2 separate regions of the Homo sapiens genome follow, and region 2 is linked to region 1. The links come from fine-mapping of genetic effects on gene expression. Tissue or cell type: whole blood. Region 1 holds a variant in brackets; the other region holds the start of a gene. Each region is shown on its reference strand, or each on the opposite one. Region 1 overlaps AZU1 (azurocidin 1). Region 2 holds the start of CTSG (cathepsin G).

Region 1 (10,136 bases):
GCCTCAAGTGATCCACCCACCTTGGCCTCGCAACGTGCTGGGAATACAGGCGTGAGCCACCGCACCCGGCCCCTGCCGGGAATTAAACGCAAACCACTTACAGACTACAGTTAATGTCGCTGACACTTCTGCTCCCAGGGGTCCCCATGAGGCTCCAGTCCCCAGGGCCACCCTCCCCTGACTCCATTTCCTTCCCCAGCTGGACCGTGAGGCCAACCTCACCAGCAGCGTGACGATACTGCCACTGCCTCTGCAGAACGCCACGGTGGAAGCCGGCACCAGATGCCAGGTGGCCGGCTGGGGGAGCCAGCGCAGTGGGGGGCGTCTCTCCCGTTTTCCCAGGTTTGTCAACGTGACTGTGACCCCCGAGGACCAGTGTCGCCCCAACAACGTGTGCACCGGTGTGCTCACCCGCCGCGGTGGCATCTGCAATGTGAGTGCTCCCTGTGGCGGGAGGAGGGGTCCTGAGAGGTACTGAGCTCTCCGTGGCAGGAGAAAGCAAGTGCAGGCTGAGGGCGGCACAGCAGGGGGGCCCCAGGATTGAGCATTTTCACGGTAGGAGAAACAGTATCTTTTTTTTTTTTTTTGAGACAGAGTCTCGCTCTGTCGCCCAGGCTGGAGTGTAGTGGCGTGATCTCGGCGGCTCACTGCAACCTCCGCCTCCTGGGTTCAAGCGATTCTCCTGCCTCAGCCTCCTAAGTAGCTGGGATTACAGGCATGCGCCACCACGCCCGGCTAATTTTGTATTTTTAGTAGAGACAGGGTTTCTCCATGTGGGTCAGGCTGGTCTCGAACTCCTGACCTCATGATCGACCCACCTTGGCCTCCCAAAGTGTTAGGATAACAGGCATGAGCCACCGTGCCTGGCTGAGAAACAGTAGCTATCAAACGCCGGCTGTGAGCCACGTCTGTGCTGGGGGTTGGGGACCCAGCAGGCATGGTAGAGCCGGTCACTGAGGGACTCAGGCGTGTGATTGCCAGGGGAGGGGCACCTGGCCCAGCCTGGAGGTGCCAGGAAGCTCCAGAAAGCAACTGATCCCAAAGTCCACTAGCAGTTAACCAGGGCAGAGAAAGAGAAGAGCCATGCAAAGGCCCTGGGGCTGGATCAGGACTTGTAGGTTCCAGGGGCAGCAAGAGGCCTCTGCAGTTCTGGGGTGGCGTGGGAGCCAGGCCCTGGGACGCCCTGACACAGCTGCTGCCTGCCCAGGGGGACGGGGGCACCCCCCTCGTCTGCGAGGGCCTGGCCCACGGCGTGGCCTCCTTTTCCCTGGGGCCCTGTGGCCGAGGCCCTGACTTCTTCACCCGAGTGGCGCTCTTCCGAGACTGGATCGATGGTGTTCTCAACAACCCGGGACCGGGGCCAGCCTAGGGGGGCCTGTGACCTCCCATGGAGCCCAGCCCCGCCCTCCACACCTCCGGCGCTCCGCACCCACCTCCCACGGCCCCGCCCCTGCCCCCGCTCCGGCCAGAGGGGCCCTGGCTGTAATAAAGAAGCCGATCTCTCCTCTGCTCCTGGTTTCTGTTCATTGGTGGGGGAGGGGGCTGTGGGGACGCGTGAGTGGCACCTTCACCGGCCTTAGGGGCACCCACCGCAGGTGCACTGCCTGTGCAGATGTCAGATGTTCAGAGATTCCCTCAAAGCCCGGGAAGCAGGGGCTGGTGTTATCTGCACCCGACAGCGGGGTGTTGGGGGGAGGCCCAGGTTCAGAGAGGTTGGGTGGCTGCCCAGAGGTCACACAGTGAATGCCGCCCAGCACTTTGGGAGGCCGAGGTGGGCGGATCACCTGAGGTCAGGAGTTCAAGACCAGCCCGGCCAACCTGGTGAAACCCCATCTCTATAAAAATACAAAAATTAGCCGGGCATGATGGCGGGCGCCTGTAATCCCAGTTACTTGGGAGGCTGAGGCAGGAGAATCACCTGAACCCGGGAGGCGGAGGTTGCAGCGAACCGAGATGGCGCCACTGCACTCCAGCCTGGGCGACAGCGAGACTCCAGCTCAAAAAAAAACAAAAACCACGGGAGAAAACGGGGAACATTCTCCTCTTGGATCCAATAGAAACAGTAAAACGTGAATATGAAATAATAAATATAATTGTATATATAAATAATACAGAATAAAATATGAATATGATGGCTGGATGTGGCAGTCACATCTGTAATCTCAGCACTTTGGGAGGCCAAGGTGGGAGCATCGTTTGAGCCCAGGAGTTTGAGACCAGCCTGGGCAACGTAGTGAAACCATGTCTCTACAAAAATAATTTTTAAAATTATTAAAATTACACAGGAGAGGCCGGGCACAGTGGCTCATGCCTGTAATCCCAGCACTTTAGGAGGCCAAGGCGGGCGGATCACGAGGTCAGGAGATCGAGACCATCCTGGCTAACACGGTGAAACCCCGTTTCTACTAAAAATACAAAAAATTAGCCAGGCGTGGTGGCGGGCGCCTGTAGTCCCAGCTACTCGGGAGGCTGAGGCAGGAGAATTGCTTGAACCCGGGAGGTGGAGATTGCAGTGAGCCGAGATCACGCCACTGCACTCCAGCCTGGTGACAGAGCAAGACTCCGTCTCAAAAAAAAAAAAAAAAAGCCGGGTAAGTGGCACCTGTCGTCCCAGCTACTCTGGAGGCTGAGGTGGGAAGATTGCTTGAGTCCAGGAGGTGGAGGTTGCAGTGAGCCGTGATCGCACCACTGCACTCCAGCGTGGTCCACAGAGCAAGACCCAGTCTCTTAAAATGATAATAATAATAATAATAATAATAATAATAATAATAAGAAGAAGAAGAAGAAGAAGAAGAAGAAGAAGAAGAAGAAGGAAGAAGAAGAAGAAGAAGAACCTGTAGTCTCAGCTATTGAGGAGGCTAAAGTGGGAAGATCACTTTAGCCCAAGAGGTTGAGGATGCAGTGAGCTATTTTTATCTCATTTATTTATTTATTTGAGACAGAGTCTCCCTCTGTCACCCAGGCTGGAGTGCAGTGGCGCGATCTCGGCTCACTGCAACCTCTGCGCCCCCAGTTCAAGCAATTCTCCTGCCTCAGCCTCCTGAGTAGCTGGGACTACAGGTGTGAGCCACAATGCCTAGCCAATTTATATATATATATTTTTTAGTAGAGATGGGGTTTCATTATGTCGACCAGGCTGGTCTTGAACTCTTGAATTCAGGTGATCTACCCATCTCAGCCTCCCAAAGTGCTGGGATTACAGGCGTGAGCCACCGCGCCTGACCTTATTTCATTTATTTTTGAGACACGGTCTTTCTCTGATGCCCAGGCTGGAGTGCAGTGGCGTGATCAAGGCTCACTGTAGCCTCAGCCTCCCAGGCTTCAGCAACCGTGCCCGGCCTTAGAATTCACTCTTTTAAAGTGTGTACAGCCGGGCGTGGTGGCCCACACCTATAATCCCAGCACTTTGGGAGGCCGAGGCTGGCAAATCACCTGAGGTCAGGAGTTTGAGACCAGCCTGCCCAACATGGTGAAACCCTGTCTGTACTAAAAATACAAAAAATTAGCCTGGCATGGTGGCATGCACCTGTAATCTCAGCTAGTCGGGAGGCTGAGGCAGGAGAGTGGCATGAACCCGGGAGGCGGAGCTTGCAGTGAGCCAAGATTGAGCCACCGCACTGCAGGCTAGGGGATAGAGTGAGACTCTGTCTCAATAAAATAAAAAATAAAATAAAATAAAATGAAGTGTGCAATTCAATGGTCTTCGGTACACTCACAATGTTGTGTGGTCATGACCTCTGTTGAGTTCCAGAATATTTCATCACCGCCAAAGGAATCCCTGTCCCCATCAGCCGTCACTCCCTGTCCCCTCCCCAGTCCGCGGCACCCACGCGTCCTCTTCCTGTCTCTGTGGATGGGCTTGTCCTGGACATTTCATAGCAATGGGATCACACACTATGTGGTCTTTCGTGTCCGGCGTCTCTCACGGAGCGTGACGTCCTCACGGTGCCTCCGCGCCGTGGTCGGGTCACAGCTGGGTCCGTTTCACGGCTGCGTCCTGTTGCCACGCCTGGAGGCCTCACTGTGCTGCTCGAGGCCCCTGTGGATGGACGTCTGAGCCTCTCCACTTCCGGCCACTGTGACCCTCACTGCTGTGGACACTCATGTGCAGGTTTGTGTTGGAACTGCTGCTTTTCTTTCTTTTGTGGGTATAACGGGTCCTTTTTTTTTTTTTTTTTTGAGACGGAGTCTCGCTCTGTCGCCCAGGCTGGAGTCCAGTGGCGCGATCTCGGCTCACTGCAACCTCCACCTCCCGGGTTCACGCCATTCTCCTGCCTCAGCCTCCCGAGTAGCTGGGACTACAGGCACCCGCCACCGTGCCCGGCTAATTTTTTGTATTTTTAGTAGAGACGGGGTTTCACCGTGTTAGCCAGGATGGTCTCGATCTCCTGACCTCGTGATCCGCCCGCCTCAGCCTCCCAAAGTGCTGGGATGACAGGCGTGAGCCACCGCGCCCGGCCAACGGGTTCTCTTTACAGAGGGGGAAACTAAGCCTAGAGAGGGGTGCCAATGGCTCAGGAGCCCAGCCGGTGGGGGCCCTGCCTGGGTTTGGAGAGGCAAAGCCACTGCCTGATCATTGTTCAGATGGGGAAACTGAGGCCCAAGGCAGGATTGGGGTTCAAGGGCTTCTGGTGCCCCCGGCTCGGGGCCACGTTCGGTCATGAGGGTCCCCCTGCTGGGGCGGGATTCCTGCCAGAGGCGGTTTCTGCCCTCCTCCCCCCAGCCCCTGCTGCTCCCCCTTCCTGGGCCCAAGGGTGCTGTTCTCGGGTTCCCCTGGTAGCGGTCAGCCCGGCTGCAGGGCCCTCAGAGCGGGGCTGCGTGTGACTGTGGGCAGCCCGAGTCCTCTCCGCGCCTCGGATTTCAGGGACATAGAACGGGGTCCCATCCGTGGACCCACCCGCCACCCCGCAGCCCCGTCCAGGCCCCGACGCGTGCAGCCCCCACCCCGCAGCCCCGTCCAGGCCCCGACGCGTGCGTGCAGCCCCCACCCCGCAGCCCCGTCCAGGCCCCGACGCGTGCAGCCTCCTGGCAGAGCCAGCTGTGCTCAGGCTAAAAACAGCTGTTCTGTTTCTTCTCTGTGCCCCTCTACCCGGCCCCACTCACTGGTGTCTTGAGAAGGTTTTTAAATTTTCGGAATTCTCAGAACAGATTGTGAAATGTCTGGGTTTGGCTTAGAAATCCCGTGAGAGGGGGCATCAGGGGACAGGTGGGTGGATGGGCCTGGGGGGTGTGGAAGGCGGCCGGGTGTCAGGGCCCCAAGCACACGGGAAGGTCAACGGTCGGCACAAAACACACACAAAACACAACCACTGCGAGGCTGAGCCTCGCGGGCGAACCAGCATCTTCCCGTCACTCAGGGAGAGAAGGTTTTCCTTTATAAAGAGGAGAGGAAAGGAGGCCGGGCACAGTGGCTCACGCCTGTCATCCCAGCACTTTGGGAGGCCGAGGCGGGTGGATCACCTGAGGTCAGGAGTTCGAGACCAGCCTGGCCAACATGGTGAAACCTCGTCTCTACTAAAAATACAAAAATTAGCTGGGTGTGGTGGTGGGCGCCTGTAATCCCAGCTATTCAGGAGGCTGAGGCAGGAGAATCGCTTGTACCCAGGAGGCGGAGCTTGCAGTGAGCCGAGATCGCGCCACTGCACTCCAGCCTGGGCAACAGAGCAAGACTTCATCTCAAAAAAAAAAAGAAAGAAAGAAAGAAAAAGAAAGTAGTAGAGGAGAGAAAAAAGAGAGAACAAGAAAGATGGAGAGACAGAGACGGACAGAGACACAGAGACAGAGAGAGACGGAAAAAGAGGGACAGAGCCAGAGAGACTGAGAGAGATAGTTTTAAAAAAGGGAGACAGCGATGACACAGAGAGACACAGACACAGACACAGAGATGAAGAGACAGACAGATATAGGGAGACAGAGACAGACTGAGACAGAGAGACAGAGACAGAGGGAGACAGAGACAGAGACAGAGAAGGAGACAGAAAGAGGGCGGGGAGAGAGACAGAGACAGAGACACAGGCCTGAGCCCCGCATGGGTCTCCCCTCGGCCCCAGGCGGCGTCACCTGCGATCCCTGAAGCCGTTACCAGTTGCGCCACCTACGGTTGGTACAGGAAGGGGCCCCCACTACCTCTGCCCCCAGGCCGACC[C/T]CTGCAAAGCCCCCAGCGTGTTCCACGGAACCCTCCCTGCTACCCGCTCCCAGCGCTCCTGTCGCCCTGGCCTGTGCTTTTGAGTCCCCCCAGGACGCACAGGGAGCCTGGAGGACCCGGGGCCCGCGGGACGGTGCTGGGACCCTCCGGTCAGGACCGGGCTGCATCAGCCTTGCGTGGAAACAGATCCTGACGGGGAAGCCCACGTACAGTGAGGACGGGGCAGCCCCCTGGGCAGCTCTCGCGTGTGCTAGATCCAGCAGTGTGTGTGCAAGGTCTTTCTTTTCTTTCTTTTCTTTTTTTTTTGGTTGACAGCTTTATTGAGATGTCCTTCACACACACCAAGCAATTCACCCACTTAACAATTCGGTAGTGGCCAGATGGTGGGGGAGGATCGCTGGAGCCCAGGAGTTCCAGACGAGCCTGGGCAGCATAGCAAGACCCCTCTCTATTAAAAAAAAAAAAAGGCAGGGCGCGGTGGCTCACGCCTGTAATCCCAGCACTTTGGGAGGCTGAGGCCGGCGGATCACCTGAGGTCAGGAGTTCGAGACCAGCCTGGCCAACATGGTGAAATCCCGTCTCTACTACAAATACAAAAAACAAATTATTCAGGCGTGGTGGCAGGTGCCTGTAATCCCAGCTACTTAGGAGGCTGACGCAGGAGAATGGCTTGAACCCAGGAAGCCAAGGTCACACCACTGCACTCCAGCCTGGGTGACAAGAACAAAACTCCATGTAAAAACAAATCAAGAAACCTCAAATCCGTCGACCCCCACTGCTGCCCTGCAGAAGGTCCTATTACCGTCCTCACCCGCCTTTACAGGTGGGGAAACTGAGGACTGCAAGCCAAACAGCTTGCCTCAGCATGAGCTGACTCATGGCTGAAACCAACAGCACTTTTGTTGAATGAGAATAACCCTTTTATTTTGAGACGGTGTCTCGCTCTGTTGCCCAGGCTGGAGTGCAGTGACGCGATCTCAGCTCACTGCCCCCTCCACCTCCCGGGTTCAAGTAATTCTCCTCCCTCAGCCTCCCAAGTAGCTGGGATTACAGGCATCTGCCACCACACCCAGCTAATTTTTGTATTTTTAGTAGAGTCGGGGTTTCACCATGTTGCCCAGGCTGGTCTTGAACTCCTGACCTTGTGATCCATCTGCCTCAGCCTCCCAAAGTGCTGGGATTACAGGCAACAGCCACCGCGCCCGGCCACAGCTCTAGTTCTTTTTCTTTTTTTTTTTTTTGAGACGGAGTCTCGCTCTGTCGCCCAGGCTGGAGTGCAGTGGCACAATCTCTGCTCACTGCAAGCTCCGCCTCCCGGGTTCACGCCATTCTCCTGCCTCAGCCTCCCGAGTAGCTGGGACTACAGGCGCCCGCTACCACGCCCGGCTAATTTTTTGTATTTTTAGTAGAAACGGGGTTTCACCGTGTTAGCCAGGATGGTCTCGATCTCCTGACCTCGTGATCCGCCCGCCTCGGCCTCCCAAAGTGCTGGGATTACAGGCGTGAGCCACCGCGCCCGGCCCACAGCTCTAGTTCTTTAATACACATCAGGTCGGTCATGGTGGCTCATGCCTGTGATCCCAGCATTTGGGGAGGTCAAGGCAGGAGCGTCCCTGAAGGCTGGCAGTTCAAGACCAGCCAGGGCAACATAGCAAGACCCCATTTCTACAAAAAATTAAACAGCCAACCAAAAAAAAAAAAAAAAAGAAAGAAAAACTTTAGCTGGACATGGTGGAGCATGCCTGTGGTCCCAGCTACTTGGGGGGTTGAGGCAGGAGAATTGCTTGAGCCCAGGAGGTCGAGGCTGCAGTGAGCCATGATTACACCACTGCACTCCAGCCTGGGTGACACAGCCAGACCCTGTCTCAAAAAATATATATGTATATTTTAAAATATTATATATTATATAATGTAAATAATATACATGCTACATATTTTATGTATACATCTATGTTATATACATTAATATAGCCAGGTGCAGTGGCTCACACCTGTGTTCCCAGCACTTTGGCGGGATTACGGGCGGGTCACCTGAGGTCAGGAGTTCGAGACCAGCCTGGCCAATATAGTGAAACCCCGTCTTTACTAAAAATACAAAAAAAAAAAAAAATTAGCCAGGCGTGGTGGTGGGCGTCTATAATCCCAGCTATACAGGAGGCTGAGGCAGGAGAATTGTTTGAACCCGGGAGGCGGAGATTGCAGTGAGCTGAGATCGCACCACTGCTCTCCAGCCTGGTGACAGAGCGAGACTCTGTCTCAAAAAAAAAAAAAAATCCAAAGGGGAAAACAGTAACTGGACAGTGCAGGAACCGGCAGATGCCCTGACCACGTGGTCAAGGTTATTACCATCAGCACGAGACAGGCCGAAGCCATGGGCTTCGACGTGGGGGGCCTGAGACAGACACACGCCACGCCCGGGACTCCCTCCATTGAGTCCTGAGGCCACCCAGGACCATCCCCACGGAGGGACGCTCTGCAGAGTGACCACCAGCTCTCCTCAATGGTCCCAAGGGCTGAGGGAGGGCAGAGGGACTGCGCCCGCTGGAGGAGACCCTGACATCTGAAGATGGGTGGCTTGTGTACCCAGGACCCAGCAAAGGGTGGCTGGTGATACTCAGGGGGCTGGGGCAGAGGGGGCCATTTGGAATCAACTTTCGCGCCCTGGCTTCGATCACAGCCTGGAGGGTTGAGCAAGAGGACAGAATTTAGGGAAGCTGGGGGAGGGAGGCCGGGGGAGGGAGTTTGGGGAGCGGGGAGGGAGTTTGGACCCTTTGGACTTCTGTAAGCGTGAAATCCTTTCCAAATGAAACGTTAAAAAGCTTTTTTTCTTTTTGGCCTCCAAGTTCATTCAGTGCTTCTCTCCATTTCACTGTAGGTTTAAACCGTTCAGTTATAAATAAATAATTTTATCCTCTGTCCTCGGCTTTCCCCCGTTTCCGGCACTGCAGACATGGGGGCTGGATTTGTCTCTGCGGCGGGGCCATCCTGGGCACTGCAGGGCCCTGCCAGGAGCTCCCTCCAAGTCGTGACAACCACGGATGTCTCCAGGCCTCACACAGGGACCCCTGGGGGCAGAATCACCCCAGGGTTAGAGGATTCCACAGACCCCAAGAGACTCTGAGTCCCATGATCCTCTGCCCTGCTGAGGTCCCAGGAGGCTGCACACATTGAAATCCACACCCTGAGTGGGAGGGAGAGAGGAGGCGAGTCCCGGGAGCTGGGGTCCCCCGGGTTTATGCCGTACGCCCCATCGGGAGTTTATTCTGGTGTCCGGTGTGAGCAGGGGGCAGACTGGATTTTTTATTTTTTATTTTTATTTATTTATGTTTTGAGATGGAGTCTTGCTCTGTTGCCCAGGCTGGAGTGCAGTGGCACGATCTTGGCTCCCTGCAACCTTCGCCTCCCAGGCTCAAGTGATTCTCCTGCCTCAGCCTCCTGAGTAGCTGGGACTACAGGCGCCCGCCAACACGCGCAGCTAATTTTTGTATTTTTAGTAGAGATGGGGTTTCACTATGTTGGCCAGGCTGGTCTTGAACTCCTGACCTCAGGCGATCCACCCGCCTCGGCCTCCCAAAGTGCTGGGATTACAGGTGTGAGGCACCGCACCTGGCCATTTTTTTCCCCAAATAATGAACACTGGTCTCTCCCCTGGGCCCTGTGGACATCGGGGCTGGATCCTTCTCTGGGGCAGGCCCGTCCTGGGCACTGCAGGGTGCTAGGCATCATCCTTGGCCTCCACCCACTCCATGCCAGGAGCTCCCCTTTCGTGACAGCCACAGGTGTCCTCAGACCTCGCCCAGGGTCCCCTGGGGGCAGAATCACCTCTTGATTGAGAATCCTGGCCTTAAAGGGGGAAGAAAACCCCCAGACAAAACTGGCAGGAGGATGTTCGCTGGGGCCTCAGGTGAGGCACTGAGGGCACTCGTGGTGGGGCCCTGCCTTCCCGAGCTCTGCATCCTGTCCCCTGCTACGTCCTGCTGTCTGTCCGTTT
Region 2 (10,136 bases), not on the chromosome of region 1:
GTGTGTGTGTGTGTGTGTGTGAGAGAGAGAGAGAGAGAAAGAGGAGAAAGACTTTCTCTTTCTGAAATATCATCACCTGACCCAATCCTTCTCCTTTTTGCCTTAGCTGTTGGGTTGGGGGAGAAGTTCCCAGTGAGGTTTCTGTGCCTGAGCTTACCATAATTTTATGACTTTCCATTCAAGTTGATAAGGCTTCTAACGCACAAAGTCTGCACGTGGAAAAAGAAAGAATTGTGTTCTTTTGCACTGGTTTTCATTGTGCAAAATGCTTTCTTGCCAAAGTTCTGCTGATGAGGTTTACTCAACAGGGAAGAGTGCAGATTTGTTAGAAGTGGTGGATCTGGCTTCTGGGATGGTCACCTTCTGGAGGTGAGTACCCTGGGGTCTGTAGAGACCTTTTCAGTAGGGCAGCAGAGACAAAGAGCTGCCTTGGAAGTGCTGACTGGCAGAGAAAGACCTGAAGATGAGATGAATGCCCTCGGGGCTTCCTGGGGACTGAGTCCTGAGACTGGGCAGTGCTCTGAGGCCCTAAGTAAATGCCACAGGGAGGAAGGGCTGAATGGGGGACTTTTCTACTAGCAAGTATTCTTTCCATTTGTCAGTGCAAACATTTAATAATGAGACTGTTATCCCCCAGAGCATGCCAGTAATAGATAATTCTTATGGGTAGGCAGTTAGTAAATACAGAGAGAATGACTGAGGATTGTTAAAGATGTATTATTGATTAAAATTTTGTTGATAAATGGCTTACACTGAATATTAGACAAATAACTTTCTGATAAGAGATACACATAAAATAATGGTCAAATTCATCAAAGCATTTCTGTATATAGCCTGTTGGATTTGATAAAATGTCTGTTCAGGGATTATTTCATTTAAGATTAGGAAAACTGCAAAAGTTCAGATGGTAAATGTCACACTGAAAGGAGTAATTAACATTTCTACTTACCTAGGAAAACCTCCTGACTGATTCTGTGTAGTTACTTTCAGCAGGTGTTTAAAGCTTAATTTTAAATTATGTGATTTCAGTAATCTTTTGTTTGAATATAATATTGATGTAGACAGTCATGGGCTAATCTTCAGGGCAAATGTATTGTTATTTAGGTCAACATTTTGTGAGGTGTTTTATATACCTTCAGAGTATCAAAAGTTCTCAGACAGATCTTCATCACATTGGTGAGGAAAATGCTGGCTTATAAGTACAGTGGGGTTGGTATAGCGCAAGGAAGGGCTATAAACCACAAAGTGACTGAGATAGGTCTCAATCTAACAGAAGTTTATTTAGCCAAGGTTGAAGATGCACCTGGGGAAAAAATACAAGCCACAGGAGCATCTATGACCTGTGCTTTTCCCTAAAGGGTTTTAGGAACTTCAGTATTTAAAGGGGAAAGAGCAAGCAGGAAGGTAAAAATGGGAGAGAGAGTAGGACTTCAGGCAGATGGTTATGTTCTTGTGAGGTTCTGATTAGCCTCAGTAAATCTACATCTTACACAAGATAAAGTAAACATGTGGAAAAGCAAGTAGAGGAAATGAGGTGATGCCACAGGATTGTGGATTATAGCTGTTTGGAAATAAATAGAAAGCAGTTTTTTTCCCCCCATGGGTCAGTTCCCAAGCTTAACTTTCCCTTTGGAATAGTGAAGTTTGGGTCCTGAGATTCTATTTTCTTTCACAAGGTTTAGGACAAGCATGCGGGCTGGTGATGGACGCTATGGTTCTTCCATCCTTGGCTATTGTGATTAATGCTGTTACTAACATGGGTGTTTGTTAGCTATTTTTAAAGAAGCAAAATCTCTTTAATTTTTCTTTATTCTAGTGCTTGTATGGTTTAATGTTTTTGCATTTAGATCTGTGATCCATTTGAGGTTTATTTTGAAGTATGGTGTGAGGAATGGATCCAATTATAGCTTCCATCCCCTCCAAATATCTATCTAGTTGTTCTAATGCTATTTATTAAAAATCCATTGTTTCCCAGTGATTTGAGATGCCACCTTTTTCATACACTAAAGTAGGTCTTTTTTTTTGGAATTTCAGTTCTGTCTTTTTGGCCTGCCAGTCTTTTTTTTTTTCTTTCTTGGAATGGTGTCTTGCTCTGTCGCTCAGGCTGGAGTGCATGGTTCACTGAAGCCTCAACCTCGTGGGTTCAACTAATCCTTCCACTTTAGCCTCCCAAGTAGCTGGGACTATAGACACATGCCACCATGCCTGGCTAATTTTAAAATTTTTGTGTAGAGACAGTGTTTCCCTATGTTTCCCAGACCTAATCCCCAATGTGATGGCATTAGGTGGGGCCTTTGGGATGTGATTAGGTCGTAAAAGCTGAGCTCTTTGAATGAGACTAGGTCCCTTGTAAAAGAGACATCAGAGAATTCCCTTGCCCCTTTTGCCATATGTGGACACAGGGAGAGGATGGTTGTCTGTGAACCAGAAAATGGGCCCTAATTAGACACTGAATCTGCTAGTGACTTGATCTTAGACTTCTTAGCCTCTAGACCTGTGAGAAATAAATTTGTTATTTATAAGCCACCCAATTTGTGCTATTTTGTTGTAGCAATCCAAACAAACTAAGTACTGAATGACGTTTAATGAACAAATGAGGAATTGGTTATTTATACTCTGTGGACGTTTATTAAGGCTCTGGCAACACTGTGGAGCTGGCCTGTGTCCCCGAGAAGAAGAGTCAGTCACAGGGGGGTCTCCATCTGATCCAGCAGTTTGAAGCTTCTCATTGTTGTCCTTATCCAGGGCAGGAAACTTGAGACCCTGGTGAAGACTTCTGGAGGAACCCCTGACGACTTTCCATAGGAGACGATGCCGTGGGCCACATTGTTACACAGCAGGGGGCCTCCGGAATCCCCCTGTAGGTAGAGAGGAGAAGGGAGACTGAGACAGGCCTCCCTGCTCCTGCTTCCCTGAGCTCCGGGCTCTCAGGGAAGGCAGGGGTGGGTGGGCCCCTTCAATTGCTGGGTGTGTGTGAGATGGAAGATCGGTGGGGTACAGGAGCCAAGCCTCTGGATCTTTTCGGTCGCTGGACTTCAGCTCTGCCTTAATTACTGTCTCCAGCCCAATCTGAGTCAAGGTACCTCTCCCTTCTCCAGGAGAATGTTGCCTATGTATGTGTTGTGGGTCTTCCTCCTATTCCCCCAGAGACCAGGTTGATGGGGAAAACAATCCCCAGCCCACCCTGGTCTGGCTGCCAGGCTGAGGCTGTGGGGATGGAATCTGTTCGCACTGCCTGGCTCTGCACGGGCCCCTCTCTCCCGGGGTGTGTTGGCCAATGCCCATGCCTTACCTTGAAGGCAGCCTTCCGTTCCCGCCGGTCCCCCACACAAATCTGCCTTCGGGGGTCGTAGGAACCGAAGATGCGGAGGCACTGCCTATCCCTCTGCACTCTCAGCTGCACCTCTCGGAGTGTATCTGTTCCCCTCCTCATGCTGACCCTGCCCCAGCCGGCCACAGTGCACAGCGTCCCGGGTCTCAGTCCCTCCTGGGCTCTAGGCAGAGCCACTGGGTTCACGTTTCGATTCCGTCTGACTCTTCTGCTCAGCTGGAGGAAGAATGTAGGCGTTCCCGCTCAGCTGGGGCCTCCAGCCAAGGCTCGGGGGTCGCTGGTGCAGTACACATCCCATGCCCTCCCCGCCACCCCGGAGCCTTGCCCTCACTTCCTCCTCCATTGTCCCCGGACACACTAGGAAGGAGCCAGAGGGCCAGGTAGGTGGTACCTGCAATAACATGATGTCATTCTGGATGGTCCGCTGATTATATTGAGGGTGGCGGATGGCTCTGCGCGCAGTGATGTGTTGCTGGGTGTTTTCCCGTCTCTGGATATTGTGGGCGCCCAGGGTGACATTTATATTGCTGCAAAAGCAAGAGGTAGGTCTGGGCTGCAGGAGCTATGGTCCACCAGCTCTGCAGGGTAGGCAGACAGCACGGGGAGGGCAAGACTGCAGCTAACCAGAATCGAGGGGATGGGAGGGCCCTGGGGCTCAGCTGTATCCTCTTTCTCAGCAGCTCTGAGCTAGGGATGACAGGGTGGTACTTGCCTTCAGGTTTGCTTCCCCAGATTAAGTTGATAAATAGCCTGAGTTTATATTTTGAGCCCCAATATGTGTCTTCCATCTCTTCCTCTTGCTCTTTTTGATCTTATCCTCCTTTCCTCCTCATTTACACTGGCCTGTTCCCTCCCGCAAAGACTCACTTGGTCTTTCTTTCACCCTTTCATTGCTACAACTCTTCTTTCAGATGGCTCTTCCACCGAAGAGCTCCGCAGGGCTGTGTTCCTGGCTGGCCAGGAAGTTCCTTAGCTCCTCACCTTCCCCAGCAATGAGCTGCTGTCAGCACAAAGTCTTCTCGCACCAGGAACCCTCCACATCTGCTCTGACCTGCTGGACTCTGGATCTGAAGATACGCCATGTAGGGGCGGGAGTGGGGCCTGCTCTCCCGGCCTCCGATGATCTCCCCTGGAAGGAAGCATTTGGCACTTAGCTCTATGCTTGCTGAACCTGCAATGTGGGTACCAGATTGGTGGCTCCAGAAAGGCTGGAAGATGGGGACGGCAGGAGAGAGGGTGCAGGAGAGGGAGGAGATGGTGCTGAGGCTTGGAGTCTATGGGGCAGCAGATTGGGAGGGGGCTCCAGGGTTCTACAGGAAACACTGCTGTCTTGAAAGGAGCCCTTTTCCCCATCCTAGGCCTCACCTCCCTCCTCCTCTCCAAAAGAGGGAGAACAACCCTTGTTCCAGGCAAGGCCAGCTTCAGCCTCAGGTATTGAGGAGAATGCTTTGCTGTAAGTACAGGATTGTTCCTGAAGTTCCCTTATACTTTTATCCTCATGGAGCTTCCCAGAGCCCTCTGAGTCCAATTCAAGACCACGTGGGACTGGTGTTTAAAAATCTAGACATGAGCTGATGGTACTGTTATTGCTGTATTCTTACCTCCTAGGTAGGGTCTGACACATGCTGCCAAATTATTTACACAAAGCATGTTTTTATAGCACTTATAGTGTGCGGGCAATTCCAAGACATTTAAATACTCTAACTTATTTAACTCTCATGGCAACTCTGCAAGATCGGTATTAATATTATTCTCATTTTATAGATGAGGAAACACAAATTCAAATAACTTGCTCAACAGTACAGAATTAGGATATACCAAGGCAATTTGGCTCAAGAATCTATGGGATGAGGTCAGGCCTCTGAGGGTGGGGATGGTCACTCACCTGCCTCAGCCCCAGTGGGTAGGAGAAAGGCCAGCAGAAGCAGGAGTGGCTGCATCTTTCCTGAAAGGCTGCCCAGTCAGTTGCTGCTGTGCTTCCTCCTCCTAGACTTTAAGGCCCTGAGAGAGGAAGGAAGGGGTGGGGACAGGGGATTGAGAATTCACAGTCCCATTCTCCTGCTACCATGAAAGGTTTCATCACCCAAGGCTGCTCAGGAAGTTTGCCCACAAACTGCCGGAGATGTGGGTGAGACCGTGTAATCCAAGCCAACATAGTGAGCTCTTGAGCAGCTGCTAAGTCAGTGCCGAGAGCAGAAATAGGAACCCAGCACAACAAGGAAGGGGCTTGGGGCATTGTGTCCAGAACCCTCAACCCATCAAATTCCAGAATACTCCAGCAAAGCAAGAAAGCTGGCAGCTGCCCACTTCCTGTTTTCTACTCCTCTGGGATTAGATCATTATTGCTTTTGAATTTCTGGGTTTCTCCTAATGAATGCAAGTTCCCTGGATTGCTTATCTGTATATACTTAATAAGTCTGGGACAAGGATGAATGAAAGGGTGTGGTGTGGTGAGGGATGTGGGTAAGAACATCAGGAAAAAGTTGAAGGGGGCAGAAGAGGAAAGGGTAAGCCTGCCTGCTTTCAGTGTTTGGCCCAAGACCACCCTGCTGAGACCCCTGTTGCTCTAATTTCTTTCTAGAAGCTGTCAAGTCAGATTGCGTAGGCACTCTCCTGAGTAGGTGAAGCGTGCGGCTGGAGAAAGAAAAGGAAGAACAAGGCTCTGACAATCACAATTACTTTCTTAGGTCACTTGAGTCCTCAGTGAAAATTGTGACACAATTGAAGACTTCTGCTTGCCTGTCTCCTACCCAAGGTTAAAGTCCTTATGTTCCAGACGGCTCCTTGCTTGCAGAAAAGGCTTAGTAATTTGGTTTTATTGGGAGCTGTCGTATCCTAGCTGGAAAATATCTAATATCCCATTTCACTGGTGACATTAGAGGCCCATCAACCTAATCCCAGGAGCAAAAGCTTCTGAGAAGGAGGTACATTCATTGCTGTGCTACCTATAAAAGAATTAGAGCCGCATACTCAACAATGGGAGAAAAGAACAGCAAATTACTGCAGAGTAACACAATGGATTATTAAAAACACTTAAAATATTTAGAAGATTCTGTGTATGCACAGAAAACCGTTATAATCCAGTATAATTTTTGCAGAAATAGCAGAATTGAAGACTAATACAATTCCCAATCTCTTTTTTTCTGTCTTTTATTTTGAAAATCTTTTACTTAGGTATTTATTTTTAACTTTTATTTTAGGTTTGGGGGTACATGTGAAGGTTTGTTACATAGGTAAACACATGTTACGGGGATTTGTTGTACATATTTATCACCCAGATATTAAGCCCAGCACTCAATAGTTATCTTTTCTGCTCCTCTCCCTCCTCTTACCCCACTGTCTGTTGTTTTCTTCTTTGTGTTCACAGTTCTTATCATTTAGCTCCCACTTATAAGTGAGAACATGTATTATTTGGTTTCCTGCATTAGTTTGCTAACTAACATGTATTATTTGGTTTCCTGCATTAGTTTGCTAATAGCCTCCTGCTCCACCCATGTCCCTGCAAAGGTCATGAGTCCATTCTTTTTTATGACTGCATATGTATATGTACCACAATGTATATGTACCACATTTTCCTTATCTGGTCTATTGACGGGCAGTTAGATTGATTCCGTGTCTTTGCTTTTGTGAATAGTGCTGCCGTGAACATTTGCGTGCATGTGTCTTTATGGTAGAATGATTTATATTCCTCTGGGTAAATATCCAGTGATGGGATTGCTGGATCGAATGGTAGTTCTGCTTTTAGCTCTTTGAAGAATCACCATACTGCTTTCCACAATGGTTGAACTGCTCCCACCAACAGTGTATAAGTGTTCTCTTTTGTCTGCAACTTTGCCAGCATCTGTTATTTTTTGGCTGTTTAGTAATAGCCATTCTGATTGGTGTGAGATACAATTCCCAGTCTTTATGGAGTATAATAGGCCCTCTTGAAAATCTCATGAAAATTAGGGTTCCTTTCCTTATACATAAATATATAATTTTTTCACTTATTTTTAGAGCTGCACAGAGCTTAACCTCTTCTCTTGTACAGGCTCTATAAAACGTCTTTATGCATCTGAAAAGTAACGTGAAGAAGAAGGGAGCAAAGAGAGAATAGTATAGCACCTTTATTAGTGCCTTAGCATTTGGCATAATTTAATTTATTAAAAATTTTCAACATTTTGTTTTGTTTTAAAAATGTTAGTTTAACTTAAAAATAGAAGAAAGGGATAAAGAAAAACCTGCACATATGAAAAAAAAGGAGTAAAATATATGCATTCACTCATGTAATAAAGATTGATTAGGAAATTTCATTAATAGTGACCTAGAATTTCATGCAATCTTCTCATTAAAAGTAATCAAAGCTATTTAAGATATCTAAAAAGCTTACAAACCTCGAAGAACTACCAGCATTGAAGTGACTATCAGATCAAGTTGAAGGAATAATGAGAGTCTAGTTAGGAAGCTGCTATTGTTCCAAGGGAATGTGCTGAATCCACAAAATTTCAACTTTTGTTTTTGATGACCACATTAAGGAGAAATCTGTAGAAAATATTTAAAGTATGCTATATAGTTTCTTCTGAAGAACGGATGCTACCCTTCCCTTTATGGGACTAGCATAACCTCCATGCCAAACCCAATAGAGACAATATAGAAATGAAACATTATAGGTCAATAAACTTTTGAATATTGATGCAAACCAAATCAATCAATAAGCAAATAGATATTAATATATCATAAGTAATTTGGGTTTATTCTAGGAACACATAGTTGACTTTTCATTTGAAAAGCAAAATTGCTGTAACACATCATATGAACTGACTAAAGAAGAAACATCATGTGATTATTTAATTGAAACAATGAAGGCCTAAAATTTACCCTTATTTACTTAAAAAATACTCTTAGCAGACTAGGAATAAAAAGAGTGTCTTTAATCTGATAGAAGTTATCACAAAATTCCCACAGCAATCATTATACCTAATGGAAAAGTGTTAAAACCTTTTTTTGAGAGCAAAACATTACAATAATGCCTGAATACAAATTATTATCAGTTCTGTTCAACAAACAGTACATTAGCAGTTTTAGCCAGTGCAGTTAGGTAGGAAATGGAAATGAAAGGTATAAAGACAGGAAAAGAGAAAACAAAATTGTAATGATTTGAGGAAGTGATAGTATACGTAGACAATCCAAAATCATCTACAGGTAAATTACCATAATTAATAAGAGTTTTACAGATTTGCTAGAAAAAATCAATTTAAAAATTAATCATATTTCTACATGTACTGCAACACTGTTAGAAAGAAATTTTTAGAAAGTAATACTTAAATGGCATGGAAATGATCAAATAACTAAATGTAAATCTAAAAGAATATGTGAAAGACCTCTTTGGTGAAAATTATAAAACTGAATGAAGAGACATTCAAGAAGACCTAAACATGAAGAGATTCCATGTTCATAGATTGGAAGAAGACTAAATATTGTAAAAATGTCAGCTCTCCCAAAATTGATCTATATAGATTCATTGCACCGAGCGGTATTTTATAGAACTTAACTGATTGTAAGTATATTTGGAAAACAAAAGGCTAATGATAGCCAGGTCACCATTAGAGAATGAGAATAAGATGGAAGACTTGCTTTTGCAAACAAAGCCATGGGAATGAAGATAGCGTGGTATTGATGAGGCATAGAAACATGGACTAATGGACCAGAAATAAGGACTCCACACGCATGTGGACGCTGACATACACATGGATGGATTGATTTATGATGGATGTTGCATCTTTCATCATAATAGGGAAAAGACTATTTTCTTTTTTTATCCCCAATAAATGGTACTGGGATAATAAATTGCCTTTATGGTGTCCTATAGAGACAAATATTTTCTATGTGGAAAAATAAAACTTGACCTTCTTCTCCCAAAATATCAAAAAACCTATTCTAGGTAGATTATGGATCCAAGTAGGAATAATGATTTGAATATATAATGGAAGAATATCTTCATGATAGGTAAAGATTTTAGTACTGTATATAAAGTACTAATAATGAAGAAAAGGACTGATGAATTTGACACATCTAAATTGAGAGAAACAAAAGACCATTCATGGAGTAGGCAAAGATGCTTGAAATACACATAAACAACAAAGGGCTTATATTCAAATTACATAAAGAACTCAGAAATCTGGCCAGGTGCAGTGGCTCACCCATGTCCCAGCACTTTGGGAGACCGAGGCGGGTCGATCACTTGAGGTCAGGAGTTGGAGACCAGCCTGACCAACATGGTGAAAACCTGTCTCTACTAGGAACATACACAAAAAAATTAGCCAGGATGGTGGCACATACTTGTAACTTCAGCTACTCGGAAGGCTGAGGCAGGAGAATCGCTTGGGGAACTGGGGAGGCTGAGGTTGCTGTAAGTGGAGATTGCCTCACTGGGCAACAAAGTGAGACTCTCAAAACAAAACAAAACAAAAACTTGCAATGAAGAAGACAATTAACTTAATAAAACAATAGCCAAAAGACTTGAACAGTTTTATCTCAAAACAGGAAATCGAAGTGGTCAATAAACATGAAAAAGTGTTACTCTGACTAGATATTAGAGAAGCACCCATTTGAAGCACAATGAAGGCCACGTATGGTGGCTCATGCCTGTAATCCCAGCACTTTGGGAGGCCAAGGTGAGGGGATCACTTGAGCCCAAGAGTTCGAGACTGTGTGTGATGGCATGTGCCTGTAGTCCCAGCTACTTGGAAGGCTGAAGTGGGAGTTGAGGCTGCAGTGAGCCATGATTGTGCCATTGCATTCCAGCCTGGGTGACAAGACAAGACCC

The links. PIP is the estimated chance that this variant, and not a neighbour inherited with it, causes the effect.
Region 2: CTSG starts here. The variant in region 1 is fine-mapped to the expression of CTSG in whole blood (TOPMed, PIP 0.97).

What each region holds. Positions count from the first base shown.
Region 1 is chr19:830,509-840,644 of GRCh38, forward strand. AZU1 (azurocidin 1) reads left to right here. Exons shown (of 5, transcript NM_001700.5): 4 at 200-433; 5 at 1,208-1,510. The coding sequence ends at 1,369. Among named protein-coding and RNA genes, the nearest start is that of PRTN3, 5.4 kb to the right of the region's middle. The variant C/T (reference allele first, on the strand shown) is at 6,146.
Region 2 is chr14:24,570,953-24,581,088 of GRCh38, forward strand. CTSG (cathepsin G) reads right to left here and starts at 5,298. Exons shown (of 5, transcript NM_001911.3): 1 at 5,217-5,298; 2 at 4,313-4,460; 3 at 3,723-3,858; 4 at 3,293-3,547; 5 at 2,566-2,858. The coding sequence starts at 5,271. The coding sequence ends at 2,685.